Linked DNA regions of Homo sapiens: region 2 is linked to region 1. The links come from fine-mapping of genetic effects on gene expression. Tissue or cell type: whole blood. Region 1 holds a variant in brackets; the other region holds the start of a gene. All regions are shown on one strand. Distances are between the middles of the regions.

Region 1 (8,107 bases):
GCAAAGAAGGAGGCACTGTCATGCAACATATTAAAGTAACATAAAAAGTATCAAGAGGCCAGGTGCGGTGGTTCACATCTGTAATCCCAGCACTTTGGGAGGCCAAGGTGGGTGGATCACAAGGTCAGGAGTTCAAGACCAGCCTGGCCAAGATGGTAAAGCCTGTCTCTACTAAAAATACAAAAATTAGCCAGGTGTGGTGGTGGGCGCCTGTAATCCCAGCTACTTGAGAGGCTGATGCAGGAGAATTGCTTGAACACGGGAGGCGGAGGTTGCAGTGAGCCAAGATCGTGCCACTGCCCTCCAGTCTGGACGACAGAGTGAGACTCCATCTCAAAAAAAAAAAAGTATCAAATTAAGTACAGTAGCAGAGTATAGCTTTATCTAATACTATGCACTGAGTTACATACCTTACTTTTTGGAGGGTCTTCTAAAACCTTGCTATAATATGAGAGGATCTTGATTTTCTACAACTAAGTAAAAGATAACATGCTGCTCCATTTTCTTAAATGATGAAGGGATGGCTTTCCTAACATGGAACACTTAACAGATGACTACCATTATACCTAAATATAAAAGATGGTAAGAACTGATTTCCAGAAGGACTTCAAAGGATTGGTTCGGTGAAGGAAACAGAGTATATCATGATAACATACTATACAATTCAAGGAAGATATCTGACTTCCTTTCTTAGCAGCTCTGCTGCATGTTGGTTCCTAGTGTTGCCATTATTAACTGACAATCATAGAATGGCTTCTGCTTGCTTCACAACTGAAACTAGGAGGGCGGAGGGGAGGAGGTGGCAAGAGGGGTAAAGGCAGTAGCAGTAATGATGGACCGGTTAATAAGAGACTCTGAGTGTGATGTAAATAGTATGTTTATTAAACAATAGAGCCCATTGGAATTTTTTTCTTCCACGTATTGTTAGATGTAAAACCTGATACACTACCATACAGACAGGTGATTGACTAGACCTTGTTTATGTAGTTCTAATGTGGAATACTTAGAGTTGTTATGAATTACGATTATCCATAACTTTTGAATCTAAAAAGCTGGCTACACAACGTATTTTGTTGGAATCTTTTTGTAATACCAAATGTCTACACTCTTTGATCTAGAGAATCACAAAATTTTAGAAACATCACTACCCAGGTTAATTGACTTTTTTATTGTTTACTGTCCAAATACCTGTTACATATTAATAGTATTCTACTTTATATACCTGTAATAAACTATTCAGGGTTTCTTAAGCTGGTTGTTGAAATGTTTTGTAATACTGCTCTTCTTACCTTGTTATAGGAACTTTTATAATAAACCTGAAAAAGTGAAACATATCTTTCCCAAATAAATAGCAGATTATATAAATGAGCCAGCTTCATGGATCATGTATTGAAATAATTAGTTGTAACCTATAAAGTTTGTAAGCATTCTTACAATAGAGGCAATCTTAAGATTACTATTATTAGGACTTAAGAGATTTGAGAAGTTGGGAGCTAACAAATTAAGACCCTAATGGTATATGTCCTTAACCTGTAACAGGAGTTTATTTTGTCAAGCTATTTTTCCCATCCTATTCATTACTACTAAAAAATATTGCTTAAAAACATTTTCTTCCTTCGTGAGGCTTCTTAGAATGTTAAATTTACCTTCTAAAAATTATACACTAAGTTATTTTACAGGAAAACAGCTTCTTAGGATTAATGTAATATATATATGCAAAGGTCAAATGAAATATTTTTGTGGATGGTAAGAAAAATTTCAACTTACATTTTTGCAACTTCTTTAACGATATCACGGCAGGTCATTTCTTTCATCTATAGAAAATAAAATGTATACTGTTCATCAGAAGAACATTTTCCACTTGTGTAATAACTATTTTCACTTTTATACTCAGATATAAAACCAAGGAAAATAACCTAAAGTCTGAAAAAGACCAGAATCGAAGTTTCCTGATTCATATTTTAATGTTTTGAAATTTATACTCCAGGCTGGGTGCAGTGGCTTGTGCCTGTAATCCCAGCACTTTGGGAGGCCGAGGCGGCCGGATTGCCTGAAGTCAGAAGTTCGAGACCAGCCTGACCAACATGGTGAAACCCTGTCTCTACTTAAAAATACAAAAGAGCTGGGCATGGAGGTGGTGCGCGCCTGTAACCCTAGCTACTCGGGAGGCTGAGGCCTAAGAATCTCTTGAACCCAGGAGGCAGAGGTTGTAGTGAGCCGGGATCACGCCACTGCACTCTAGCCTGGGCGACAGAGAGAGAGACTGTCTAAAAAAGGAAAAGAAAAAAATTTATACGCCAAAAAAGATATTCTGAGATAACCTGTAGTTACCACTAACTTTGTGACAAAATTATAAAAATCCACAGCCATCTATGAATCTGTAGGCAGACCTGAAGTTTGAACGACTGGTGAAGACATCTGATTTTCTTTATAGCCAAGTTAGGATAACAAAATGCAAACAAGTCATTAATATTTACTATATGCAAGATACAGAAAGATGAAGGAAGGAGTAAGAAGTTATCCTTCGTGGAACTATTCAAAGCAAAAATGCAAAATACCAGGGAAAGCTTTGAAGAACCAAGATTTGAGCAGGTTCTTAGAATATAGATTGGATTGGATTTGATTTCAAGAAAGATGAACGTGTAAAGCAGAAGTGGGAAGCCAAAAACTTTTTTCCAAATTAGAATTAAGCATTCTTTCAATGAACATTTGGAAATCAAGGTAGAAAAATATCCCTAGGGCCTAGCTGAGGAGTCTGTATGTTGTTGGGTTTTGATAGTAACCAGTCCAAGATTTTGTTATTAGACGTGGGTTTCTGAATAGACAGGCATTTCTGAACAGACATGACAGGATCAAAACAATGTTTGAGCAAACTGCCCTTCATCTACTGTGGATATGTTGGGGGATGATGGAATATAGTGAAAGATAATGGGTGCTCATACAGCAGTCTAGACTTAAGGTGATTCAACTACTATATATTAAACTAGATTATCTTTTATTTTTTAATTTTGAAATCTGGATGCTCAAGCTCTGCCTGCACAACCACATGAGGAAGAAGGAACAATGACAACAAAAATAACACTAAATTTAAATTTAAGAGTACTACTTTTAGGAAATAGACAAACCATTATTTGGGTACAACTAAAGGCAACTGGCATGGACTCAAATATTTTGGGGAAGAAAAAGACTAAAAGTTCTAAGGAAGAAAATGCGAACCTTGATAGTTTGAAATAGTTAAAAAGACAGTGTAGAAACTG[C/T]TTAGGCAGTTTGATTATGGACTATTAGATGATACTTGGGTCTGATAATGGTATAAGGAGAATAAAGTATTTAGGGATCCAATATTACGCCTGCAGCTTTTTCCAAATAGTTCATGGGGGAGGGGGATGTGTAAGTGGTTAACTGAAGTCTAACTAGATAGGTTTGTTGTAAGCTTAGGATGTTTACAGTTCTTCATGTTAAGTTGAGCGTGATGGGAAGGGAAAGAATGCTGATCTTTAAATTTTTGTCCTTAGTTAAGTTCTGTATTTAGTGAATTAATTGCATCCTAAAAAGTCAAACTTGAAAAGCACATTTTAAATGGCAAATCTATTTTTTACATGTTTGTGAAGTTTTTATTTTTTAGTAAACAGACCATCAGAAGAGAACAATGGTACAGAGCAGGGGTCAGCAGATGGATTTTGTAAAGCATCAACTTGTAAATATTTTCAAGTTTATTAGCTGTATGGCTCTGGTTTCTGTTCCCTGTTCCAAATGTTAAAGTCTACTGTTGTATTCTAAAAGCAGCCATGGACTGAATGTAGCTGTGTTCCAATAAAACTTACACAAAAGCAGGCAGTGGGCCATAATTTGCAACACCTGATTCACAGCATAATTTTGTCACAAACTGAAAGTGTTCCTCAATTAAAGTGATTTTTTTTTCTTGATTTTTCTCTGGGATTTATTGTTTTTCCCATTCCTTGCTAGGATTTAACTACAGAAAGACAGATAGTAACTGCTCTAAATATTCTAATTTCCTTTATTTTTTTGAGATAAGGTGTCGCTCTGTTGCCCTGGCTGGAGTGCAGTGGCGTGATCATAGCTCACTGTAGCCCCCAACTCCTGGCTGGGGCTCAAACAGTCCTCCTGCCTCAGCCTCCCAAGTAGCTGGGACTACAGGCACGCACCACCTCACCTCGCTAACATTTTGTTTTGGGAGATAGGGTCTTACTCTTTTGCCCAGCCTGGTCTTGGAACTACTGGGCTCAAGCAGTCCTCCCAACTTGGCCTACCAAACTGGTAGGATTACAGGGGTAATCCCCCTCAACTGACATAAATATTCTAATTTTCAAATTTCCATATAATAGTATGGAGAGATGAAAACAAAAGGAAAAGAGTAGAAGATAGGAACCTAGCATCATACTAGTAAGTGTGCAATGGAAAAGAACATAGGTCTAAGACTCATAAGGTCTGGATACTGTTCAGAACCAGCTGATTCTGTGGTCCTATGCAGTGTGTTTAATCTGCAGTTGAGCTTGGGCTAAATGACCTCTAAGATCCTTTTGTCAGCTTTACTAAAATACGAAACAAATTAGGTTTTATAGGGGGTTCTAGAACTTAGCATTGTATAAATGCCAAGCACTAATAAGTATTTTCTAGAAGCTGGTCTTAAATAAGTTGAATGAGTAATTAGTTGAGCAGGGTTCTAGTACAGCATTAACATTAAATGTATGTGAAATTGTATCTCACTTCAGTTTACCAAAACACTGATAAATGGTATGCCTGCTTTTTAGGCAAGTTTCTGACAGGTAATCAATAATATTGAAACAGTATCCATGAAGTCTTTAAGTTGATCAACGCATGGCTAAAAGGAAAACCAAGTTTTTAAGAAAACTTTTTCACACTAATAGCTGAATTTTGTGAAAGAAAAAGTGGGTAGTCGTAAGAGTGTAGGCTTTATGCCTTACCTGGCTAGGAGCAAAGCTAAGAGAACCGGTGGAGCACAGCCAGACATAAAAGCTGTGTTCCAAAGAAAGAATATAGGAAAAATATAACTTTTTATTAACTCAAAATTTTAAACAAAATTTTCAAACTAGAGCTCACAGAGATTCATAAATAGGTTTCAAGGATTTTGTGAAATCATATCAAAAGTTGTGTTTTTCTAGATTGAGGCTTTATAGCAGTTATTCAGAATCTATAAAGGGATGTATAACACAACTCTACAGATAATATGTTACCAGCTTTCCCATTCAGTGACTTAGCAGCTTCATAAACTCTCAACATCAAACCACACTATATCCTTACACCGAGCTTCCCCAGCCACAGGCCACATGGGGCCAAACACAAATTCGTAAACTTTCTTAACACATGATGAGATTTTTTTTTAAGCTCATCAGCTATCATTAGTGTTGGTGTATTTTATGTGTGGCCCAGGGAAGCCAAATGATTGGACATCCCTGCCTTAGACTGAAATGTCTGTGGTGATAAAATTTCACTGCATTAGGATGACGACATAGTAAAAATTCAAGCATTAATTATTACCTGAAGCTTCTCTATTTCCGTCTTTGCAGCTTGCCTGGCTTTGCCGATGGCACAGCCCCAATAACCCTATTTAGAAAAAAATATATATAATCACTGAATTAGTACACTATCATATGTAATTAATGACTACTAATGTTTCTATAACCTAGTGAAAGGATGCTAAATGACTTTTAAAAGCAAGTATAGAAAAATATAGTCAAACACATTCTGATGAATGCCAAAGGGCTCAAAAATACTAAAATACCAAACAATTCCAAAACAACCTGTATTTTTAATAAAGGTATATCCAAAAATATGTAAATTATGTAATCATATACACTTTAAGACATTTTGGGGAACAGGAACGGAAAAGATTTTAGCACTATGACAATGAAAAATGAAATTATATATTCCTGAGAGACAGAAATAAAGTTAATTCCTATGAGTTCAGTACTCTAAACCCCCAATTTTATTATTTTGTAAATTTTTTTAAAGATAAGGATGCACAGCTGGGTGTGGTGGGTCATGCCTGTAATCCCAGCACTATGGAAGGCCAAGGTGGGCAGATCACCTCAGGTCAGGAGTTGGAGACCGGCCTGGCCAACATTGTAAAACCCTGTCTCTACTAAAAATACAAAAAAATTAGCTAGGTGTGGTGGCAGGTGCCTGTAATGCCAGCTACTCCAGAGGCTGAGGCAGGAGAATCGCTTGAATCTGGGAGGCAGAGGTTGCAGTGAGCTGAGACCGCGCCACTGCACTCCAGCCTGGGCAACAGAGTGAGACTCCATCAAAAAAAAAAAAAAAAAGGATGTACACATATATACTTCTGTTACAGCAAAATATATTTAAGAATCTTCATTTTCTTCAATTAGTAAAAACGACAAAAATGTAAGGATAAGAAAACAGTTAAGAAACGGTAACAGGCCGGGTGCAGTGGCTCACACAAAGTGCTTGTAATCCCAGCACTTTGGGAATCTGAGGCACGTGGATCACTTGAGGCCAGGAGTTCCAGACCAGCCTGGGCAACATGGTGAAAGTCTGTCTCTACTAAAAATACAAAAATTAGCCAGGTGTGATGGTACAGGCCTGTAATCCCAGCTACTTGAGAGGCTGAGGCACAAGAATCCCTTGAATCCGGGAGGCAGAGGTTACAGTGAGCCAAGATTGCACCACTGCAGTCCAGCCTGGGCAACTGAGCAAGACTCTGTCTCAAAAAAAAAAAAAAATGGTAATAATTTAGGGAAAGCTCTTAGAAATCACATTTAAACCTTCTCTTTAAAAGGGAAGGCAGGGCAAGGTGGCTCACACCTATAATCCCAGCATTTTGGGAGACCAAGGTGGGCGGATTACTTGAGATCAGGAGTTCGAGACCAGCCTGGCTAACATGGTGAAACCTCGTCTCTACTGAAAATACAAAAATTAGCCGGGTGTGGTGATGCATGCTTCTAATCCCAGCCTACTCGGGAGGCTGAGGCAGAATTGCTTGAACTGGGGAGGTGGAGGTTTGGCGCCACTGCACTCCAGTCTGGGTGACAGAGCGAGACGCTGTCTGAAACAAAATTAGGTCCGGCACTGTGGCTCACGCCTGTAATCCTTGCACTTTGGCAGGCCGGGGTGGGCAGACCACCTGAGGTCAGGAGTTGGAGACCAGCTGGCCAACATGGCAAAACCCCATCTGTACTAAAAATACAAAAATTAACCAGGCATGGTAGTACATGCCTGTAATCCCAGCTAATCAGGAGGCTGAGACAGGAGAATTGCTTGAACCTAGGAGGCGGAAGAGGTTGCAGTGAACCAAGATCGAGCCACTGCACTCCAGCCTGGGAGACAGAGTGACACTCCATCTTATAAATAAATAAAATAAAAGGGATGACATGGCTGGACATCGATGCTCACGCCTGTAGTCCCAGCATTTTGGGAGTCCAAGGCAGGAGGACTGCTTAAGGCCAGGAGTTTGAGACCAGCCCTGGGAACGTGGAAAGACCTTGTCTCTATAGACACCAAAAAAATACAAAAATTAGCTAGGCATGGTGGCATGAGCCTGTAGTCCCAGCTACTTGGGAGGCTTAGGTAGGAGGATCGCCTGAGCCCAGGAGTTGAGAGGCTGAAGTGAGCTATGATTGTGTCACTGCACTCCAGCCTGGGCAAGAATGAGGAAAAAAGACATTAAATACAGTTTTAAGACAGTGTTTATAGTAATAAAGGAAAATCACATATTCAAAATACTATATGCACTATACAGTTTCTATAAATAACATACTGAAAAAAAATCTTTCCTCTGCCTCGTATCAGTTATTAATGATAAGAAAACATGGCTGGGCCTGGTGGCTCACACCTGTAATACTCGCACTTTGGGAGACCCAGGTGGGTAGATCTCTTGAGGACTGGAATTCAAGACCAGTCTGGCCAACATGGCAAAGGCCTGTTTCTACTAAAAATAAAAAAAATTAGCCAGGTGGTGCACACCTGTAATCCCAGCTACCCGGGAGGCTGAGGCAGAAGAACTGTTTGAACCTGGGAGGCAGAGGTTGCAGTGAGCTGTGATCACACCACTGTGCTCCAGCCTGGGCCACAGTGAGACCCTGTTCCCCCAAAAAGGAAAAAAAAAAAA
Region 2 (8,107 bases), 33 kb before region 1:
CTCTGTTACCCAGGCTGGAGTGCAACGGCATGATCTTGGCTCACTGCAACCTCCGCCTCCCGGGTTCAAGCAATTCTCCTGCCTCAGCCTCCTGAGCAGCTGGGATTACAGGTGCCTGCCACCACACCCAGCTAATTTTTGTATTTTTAGTAGAGACAGGATTTCACCATGTTGGTCAGGCTGGTCTCGAACTCCTGACCTCAGGTGATCCACCCACCTCAGCCTCCCAAAGTGCTGGGATTACAGGCGTGAGTCACCGCGCCGGGTCTAATTTTTGCAATTTTAGTAGAGACAGGGTTTCGCCACGTTGGCCAGGCTGCTCTTGAACTCCTGGCCTCAAGTGATCTGCCCACTTCGGCCTCCCAAAGTGCTTGGATTACAGGCATGAGACACTACGCCCAGTCACAAAATAAACTTTTTAAATGCTTTTTTACACTGTCTTGAAAACATAATTCCTGTTGTATTTGTATTGTCCTAAACACTAAAATTGTCTCTACCTGAACATTAAATGAGGGGAGAAAATAGATTACAGTCCAAGTATGCTACCACAAATAGTTAAGAGCCAAATGACAGGAAATATCATGAGCATGGTATTTTGATGGTAGCATTTTGGAATAATTTCTCCTTTTGAGTTTTTTATTTCTTTATTTTTGATGTGCTTTTCCTTTAAGTTTGGTATATAAAGGGTTTTCATATAATGACTCAATAAAATGCTGATTTGCAGTCTCTCTCTCCCCAAATTTCTTCAATCTAGAGTTAATAAAACTATTGCATAAAAACAAATATTACCTTAACTTTCACCAGCCTTTTCACAGTCTTAATCTTTGCCTCACAGAAGGCACCTCGGTACTTGGCACTGACATCGGTTCCCACTGTCAGGTAGGCAGGCTCATCTGCCGCCTGGTGAAAGGAACATAAAACTGTGAATGTCATTACTATGCCTCCCTACTCCAACCTCAAGTCTCATTAAAAGGTTGTGTTTGAAGCATTAAGAATATTAAAATGACTTGCTTATTAATATCATTGAAAATTTGAAAAATACCCTAAATACTTGATTAGCAACCTTTCATTTTATAGACTGATGTCCTGATATGATAAAATGTTTTAAAGTTGTAATTCAAAATTATCAGTGATTAATAATGTTTTGTCTCGATACAAAATTTTTCAAAAATTCTACTATTATATAAGCAGAAAGATAAGAAAAAAACAGAAAAAATATTTCATATTACACATATCATAAAACTAAGTTATTCATTTATAGCTTCCTGAAATTTTTCAAATTAAAAGAAATATTGCTACTAATATTAACACTAACAATACATAATTGTTTATTGACATAGCCACATAAAGGTAACATCTTTTCATAAGGAAAGTATCATTTGGAAAATTCATTTGCTAAAAGCTGCACTTGAAAGGTTTTAAGTCTGAATTCAGCCGATGAATGCAGATATGAACTGATGGCTCCAGACTTGTAGGTATACCTAGTTTACCACACTAATCTTCTTAGTATAAAAAAATAAGCGTTACTAAGAAACATCTACTTTCAGCAAATGGACACGACCAGAATGATACATAGAAAGATGTAAGAAATGTCACTCTACCACTCATTTTAATTTTTACAGTAACAGGATGATTGCTATCTCAATCTGTCATTTTACCTTTTTTTTTTTTTTCCGGAAGTTAAAGTGTATCCATACAAGTTCAACTTAACATTGTTAAGTGCAAAGTTAACAGTGTACACTTTGGAGATACGTTTTGAAGTAGAAAATGATTTTTTGTTTTCTAATAAGTTTTCCCAAGTAATATTAAAGAAGGTTAAATATGTCATTTACTTCGAGAAAATAGAAAACCACGAGAAAGTTTGGGAAAATGCTATATTTCAGAGCTTAATATGCTGAAACAGTAAATAAGACAGGAATTGGGTACCTTTTAAAGTAAGTGCATTTACAAAAAATACAAATTGAATAGGAATGCTTTTGGCAAACAAAAATCTGACCTGAAACATTCAATGGCCACAGCATTCAAGAACGCTATATGAGATCCTTTCCCTTTAACCATCCACATACTGATATTTGCAGTCATCCTCAGTAGAATATGTATCTTTTTAGTATATGTTTTAAAATACTTATTGGAAAGATTTAACTAAAACTATTATTATACTTCAACTTCAAATATTTTAGCCACATAAGTTCATTTTACACACAGAAGAAATGATACCTTCATTACTTAATCCACGTATTCTTTCTTTTAGAAAATCGCATTGGCACACGGGAAGAAAAAAAATTTACAAAAAATCCCCCAAAGAACCAAAGCAGGACAAAAGCTTTACTTCTGCAAAGGTTGCTGCCAACACAGGAAGTGTTTAAAAATACTATCCGAATGGACAACAATTGAAAGGCTGCACCAGCCTTTCCAAAGTACTGCTACAGAGAGGGCCTAAACTCCGCATTTAGACACACAGATCATTTTTCACCCATTCAACACATCCTCCTATGCCGAAACTGCTGATCAGTAGGAACATCAATTTTGAGTAGCAAAACAAATGACATTCCACGGCACTAGCCTTAGGATTGGCAGTGTTCAGGGCGCGAGGATCGGGGCAGAGTTGACTCCACTTACCTTCATTTTTGTTGGTGATCTGTGGGGTTCCAGCTCAGCGAGCTATCTTCGCAGTCGCTAGAACTATGGGGAGGGGGAAAGACAGGCACAGACATAATCAGTCAACTGCGGGGAGCGACCAAGGGAAAGAAAGTAAACAAACGCCAGCGGGGAGGGGCAGAATCCTCACCAGCCAAGGGACAAGACCCCTTACGAGGGCAGCCAGGACGCAGGAGCTGAGGGGGCAGCGAGAACCCCACGAGCGCCAAAGGGCAGCCCGTTCCGCCCCGGAGCTCGCCAGCGGCCCACCGCGCCCCCGCCTCGCTGGCCACTTTGACCCGGAATGCTCAACTCGGAGCTCCAGGACAGATAGCTCCGGAAAAGGCCAGAGCTCCCTTCGGGCTTCCCCAGGTCCCCCGCGGAGACGACCGCCGAGCCTCCGCTCCGCGGTCCCCCGGATACCCCGACTTCGGCCCGCGCCCCGCCTCCGCCGCTCGGCCCCCTCGGCCCGCCCCGGGCCCGCGGTGGCGGCAGCGGAGTGTCACGGCGCCATTGCTCTCCTTCCTTCGCTCTGCACCATGTCAGAAAGGAGAAGCGCTCCTTCACCCAAAGGGGCAGGGGCCGCGGCCTTCAGCCGGGAGCCGCCAGAGCCCCGGGGGACCCGCGTGGGGGAGGGGGCGGGGGGCGGAGGGGAGGAGGAGGGGAGGTGGCCCGGACAGGGTGTGGGAGGGGAGGGGAGCCGCACCGCAGCAGCCGCTGCCTCCTCCCAGCGCCCGCCTCAACTTTTTGTACAGCCCAGAGAGGTATCAGCTCGTAGCCCCTCGAGTCCTGCCACGGACTCCGCAGAGGTGGACGCGCCGCGGAGTTGGGGGACGGCTCCCCCAAGCAGCCCGCTCTTCACCGCGCGGAAGCAAACTTAGCGGCGCGGCCAGCCCCACAGCCATTTTCCCGGGAACCCGAGGAAGCGGACGAGGAGGCGGCTGCAACTGCGGCGGCGGTTCCTGCAGTTGCTGCCGCTGGTCAATGGCTGGCCCCTTCCCTTGCGCTCGCCGTGCCACTTGCCTAGCATCCCTCTCCCCACCTCCAAAGCTTCCAACTGCACCGGGACCTCGGGCAGCAGCAGCTGCTGCTACTGCCACTTCGTCCATTCAGTATCCCCGGATTCCCCTCTCCCCACCTACCAACTGCGGGTGAAGTGCGCGCTGTCAGCTCCAGAGTCCTCCTCCCCTCTGACCTCCGTGGGCCCCCGTCCGGGCAGCACCACTCCCAGCCGCGGCTGCAGTTCCTGCGCCGGGTTCCCCACTCGCCCCGATTTACTGCCACAATCCACCAAATAACAAGCTGTTGAGCAGACTCGCTTCTACACGAACTCCTATTGGCTGCTCATGACGCCGAAGAGCTTCGGATAGGACCTCGCTACCTGCCGTCCTCATTGGATGTAGCTGTGAAACTTCATGGATTGGTGAGAAAAACAGCAGGTAGGACATCTTCCACTTATGATTGGCTTTTTCCGAAAACCAACTTTATTGGAGAGTTGGTTATTGAGTAAGCAAGTCCTGAGAAATGATTGGTAGAGACGACTCCGGATGTGCTTGACTGGGCACTGATTGGTGAATTGAGGGGTCAGGAAGAGCAGTTCGACACGAGGATTGGCGGCGGAGTGTCCCATGGAAACGGAACCCAGAATTGCAGCCAGGGGCTTGCACGGGGGCGGGGCAGGGTCTGTCCAAGGCGCTTGCGCTAAACCAGCTTGTCGGCGCCATTTTGTCTCGGCAGCGGTGGCCGTAGCTCCATCGCATTTTATGTTTCTGGCGAGAAGGGAACGGAGTTTTCATCAGGTAGATTGGTTTTTGTGCGGCCGTCCTCCACCGTTTCCTCCAGGACAGCACCTAGTCGTGGCCGGAGGAGTCTCAGAGCTGTCAGAAAGGTCAGTTGGAGGCTATGGTTGTCCGATTGACTGGGGGGATGGCGCAGCCCTAGCGGCACCGGCACCGGAAGTGAAGGGGCCGCAGGCAGCCATGGTAAACTTCTCCCTGCGGCGGGGTGGGGAGAAGGGGCGGGATGAATGGGGGCGAGGCTTCCTCTCCCGCCGAGATAAAGAGGTGGAGGAGAGGCAAACGTCTTTCTTGGAGGTTCTCTTTCGGGTTTTCGAGAATGTGAGAGATTTTCTGGGTTCTGTCCCACTGCAATCTTTCCTGTCTTTGGAAGTGCATTTCGGGGACTTGCCATGTTCTCCACCTGATTGGCACCAGCTGTGGGAGCCTTCTTAGTTAAGACAGGGAAGAAGTGGTTCTTAGAAACATCCTGCATGGGTAGAGGTTTCCGCGTGCTCCTCACGGGATAAAGCTATGAGGAAACTGGAGAAAGCGCTGGCTTTCTGGATGCTGAGGAATTTACTTGCCAGCGCAGACGCTTCTTCTGTGACCTTAGACAAGGGTCTGTCACTCTGCACGAGGCTTATGCTACTTTTTGAAAGCAAACAGTGGTTTTGCAGGGACTGAAAACATCTTAGACAAAAGGACGTCCCCGATAAGATAGACGTTGATCTTTTTCTGTTAACATCTTATATTCTGTTAAACGAAACACACATTTTTAAATAGCGGAATTGGAGTATAAAATTGACTAGTTTTATAGAATGGAGTAATTTTTAAAATGTGACATATCGTCAGTAATCCACGTGGACTAAATTTTCTCAGTAAGAAAACAGCCGAGCAGAATCAGTTTTTTATTCGTAACAGTAATTTTGCTCAAAAGTATTCATAAAAACGTGAAATGCATGTTGGCATTTCTAGTGAGTGACCTAGTCACACTGGATAGATCCTAATAGTTACCCTCAATACCTCTGTTTTAAACCCTACTGCTATATTGGTGGCGCCCATAACTAGAAAATGATTGTGTGACTTAACAATTACTGGGTTTTTTGGCAGTTGTGCTGAAGAAAACAGAACATCTCAGTGATTACTGAGGTGAGTCATAAAGTCTAAAAATCCTTAGAATTGCGGGGGACTACCTGGAAAAACTTTCTATGGATTAGTAAAGAAATACCAGAATGGGAGGAAGGGTAGTTAAAAGATGTTTTGTTTGGTCAGATTCAAATGAGTCTGTATAATTAGCTTTCTAGTGTAATATTTTAGAATGAAATCCCAAAATTAGGACATCCTTATGGACTTGTTTACCCATTTACGTGGTTCTCATTTCTGGACTTTGATATACCTCATGTTTTTGTTATAAAACATTATGCGTATTTTTGTGATTTCCTCCCCCCCACCCGCCTATTTAAAAAGTTCTTATATAGAAAAGATCTTGTAAATGGGAGTGTTTAGGAGTGAGGCTTTTTTTTTTTTTTTTTTTTTTTTTTTGGAGACAGAGTCTCTCTCTGTCATCGAGGCTGGAGTGCAGTGGCGCAATCTCGTAGGAGTGAAGCAGTTTTTTAAAAGACCTTATAAAACAATATATTACTGAATTTTCTAGGGGGTAAGCATCCATAATTCTACGATCAAAGTTTAAACTGTTATTATTGAATCCAAATAATGCATGGACATTTGGAAATTATTAAAAAGCCCAAAGAAGAATACAAAAATGTCTTCCCTCCTCCAAAAGGTAGTTACGGTTTACACTATAGTTATATATTATACAAAAGGCTTTGTCTTTTTTGTTGGTTTTGTTTTACCAAATATTCTAGTGTTGTTCATTACCGTCTATTCTTTATAGAAAACATTGGGAATATTGGAAATATCTTATCGTAAAGCATCTTTTATGTCTTCATAGTGTTTTGTGGGATAAATATATCATAATTTATGTAACGTGTTTATTTTTCTATAATGGCAGTAATATGTCAGTGAATATCCTTGTACATGTTTTGCAAAATATTGTGTCTAAGAAGGTCGTTGCAAAAGTAATCGTGGTTTTTGCATTATTGGAATTTGCCATTTGATGTTGGACTACGTTGTTAAATAAATGTGGTTATGTTATACATCATTTTAATGGGCATTTCTCGCTTTGTTCTTTTGGTAATGACTTATTACTCTCTGTTTATTTCATGTTTATTTTATTTTATTTTTGAGACAGAGTCACGCTCTGTCGCCAGGCTGAAGTCAGTGGCACCATCTCGGCTCACTACAACCTCTGCCTCCCAGGTTCAAGCAATTCTTCTGCCTCAGCCTCCCGAGTAGCTGGGACTACAGGCGCGTGCCACCACACCAGCTAATTTTTTGTATTTTTAATAGAGCCAAGGGGCTTCACCATGTTAGCCATGGTGGTCTCGATCTCCTGACCTCATGATCTGCCTGCCTCGGCCTCGTAAAGTGGTGGGATTACGGGCATGAGCCACGTGCCCAGCCTTCATGTGTATTTTAGACAATGAAAATGATGTTAGACAAAAAAGCAAATTCGAGCAGTTTTCGTTTTTGAGTTAAAAATGGGTTGTAAAACAACAGAGACACCATATCAGCAATGCATATGGTTCAGGAACTGTTAACTTACAGTGCAGTGGTGATTCAAGAAGTTTTTTTGTTGTTGTTGTTTGAGATGGAATCTTGCTCTTTCAGGCTAGAGTGCAGTGGCATGATCTTGGCTCACTGCAACCTCTGCCTCCTGGGTTCAAGCCATTCTGCCTCAGCCTCCCCAGTAGCTGGGATTACAGGCACGCACCACCATGCTCAGCTAATTTTTGTATTTTTAGTAGAGATGGAGTTTCACCATCTTGGCCCAGGCTGGTCTCGAACTCCTGACCTCGTGATCCGCCCGCCTTGGCCTCCCAAAGTGCTGGGATTACAGGCTTGAGCCGCTGTGCCTGGCAGTTTCAAGAAATTTTGCAAAGGGAAGGAAAGTCTTGAAAATCAGGAGCGTAGTGGCTGGTCGCCAGAAGTTGATAACTACCGGTTAAGAGCAATCAGCAAAGCTGATCCTCTTAAGGCTACTTGAGATGTTGCCGAAGAACTCAATGTGGACCATTCTACAGTCCTTCAGCATTTGAAGCAAATTAAAAAGTGAAAAAGCTCGATAAGTGGGTGCCTCATGAACTGACCGAAAAAAAAAGTCATTGTTTTGAAGTGTCCTTATCCCTTATTTTTTGCAACAACAAACCATTTCTTGGTCAGATTGTGATGTGCGAGAAAAAGTGGATTTTATACAACAACTGGTGATGGCCAGCTCAGTAGATGGACTGAGAAGATTCTCCAAAGCACTTACCAAAGCCAAACTTGCACCAAAAAAAGGTCATGGTCACTGTTTTGTGGTCTGCTGCTGGTCTGATCCACTATAGCATTCTGAATCCTGGCGAAACCATTACATCTGAGAAGTATGGTCAGCAAATCGATGAGATGCACCAAAAACTGCAACGCTTGCAGTCAGCATTGGTCAACAGAAAGAGGCCCAATTCTTCACAATGCCCTTCCACATGTTGCACAACCAATGCTTCAAAAGTTGAACAAATTGGGCTGTGACATTTTGCCTCATCCGCCATATTCACCTGACCTCTCTCCATTGACTACGACTTCTTCAAGCATTG

The links. PIP is the estimated chance that this variant, and not a neighbour inherited with it, causes the effect.
Region 2: PSMA3-AS1 starts here. The variant in region 1 is fine-mapped to the expression of PSMA3-AS1 in whole blood (TOPMed, PIP above 0.99).

Annotation. Positions count from the first base shown.
Region 1 is chr14:58,261,181-58,269,287 of GRCh38, reverse strand. It overlaps PSMA3 (proteasome 20S subunit alpha 3), which reads right to left. Exons shown (of 11, transcript NM_002788.4): 7 at 5,518-5,583; 8 at 1,768-1,814. PSMA3-AS1 (PSMA3 antisense RNA 1) reads left to right here. Exons shown (of 4, transcript NR_029435.1): 4 at 1,895-3,923. Among named protein-coding and RNA genes, the nearest start is that of PSMA3, 20 kb to the right of the region's middle. The variant C/T (reference allele first, on the strand shown) is at 3,258.
Region 2 is chr14:58,294,373-58,302,479 of GRCh38, reverse strand. It overlaps PSMA3-AS1 (PSMA3 antisense RNA 1), which reads left to right and starts at 4,343. Exons shown (of 4, transcript NR_029435.1): 1 at 4,343-4,525. It overlaps ARID4A (AT-rich interaction domain 4A), which reads right to left and starts at 3,925. Exons shown (of 24, transcript NM_002892.4): 1 at 3,780-3,925; 2 at 2,620-2,682; 3 at 790-900. The coding sequence starts at 2,625. RefSeq lists a silencer at 2,836-3,355 and enhancers at 3,986-4,075, 4,186-4,235, 4,256-4,675, 3,972-4,695.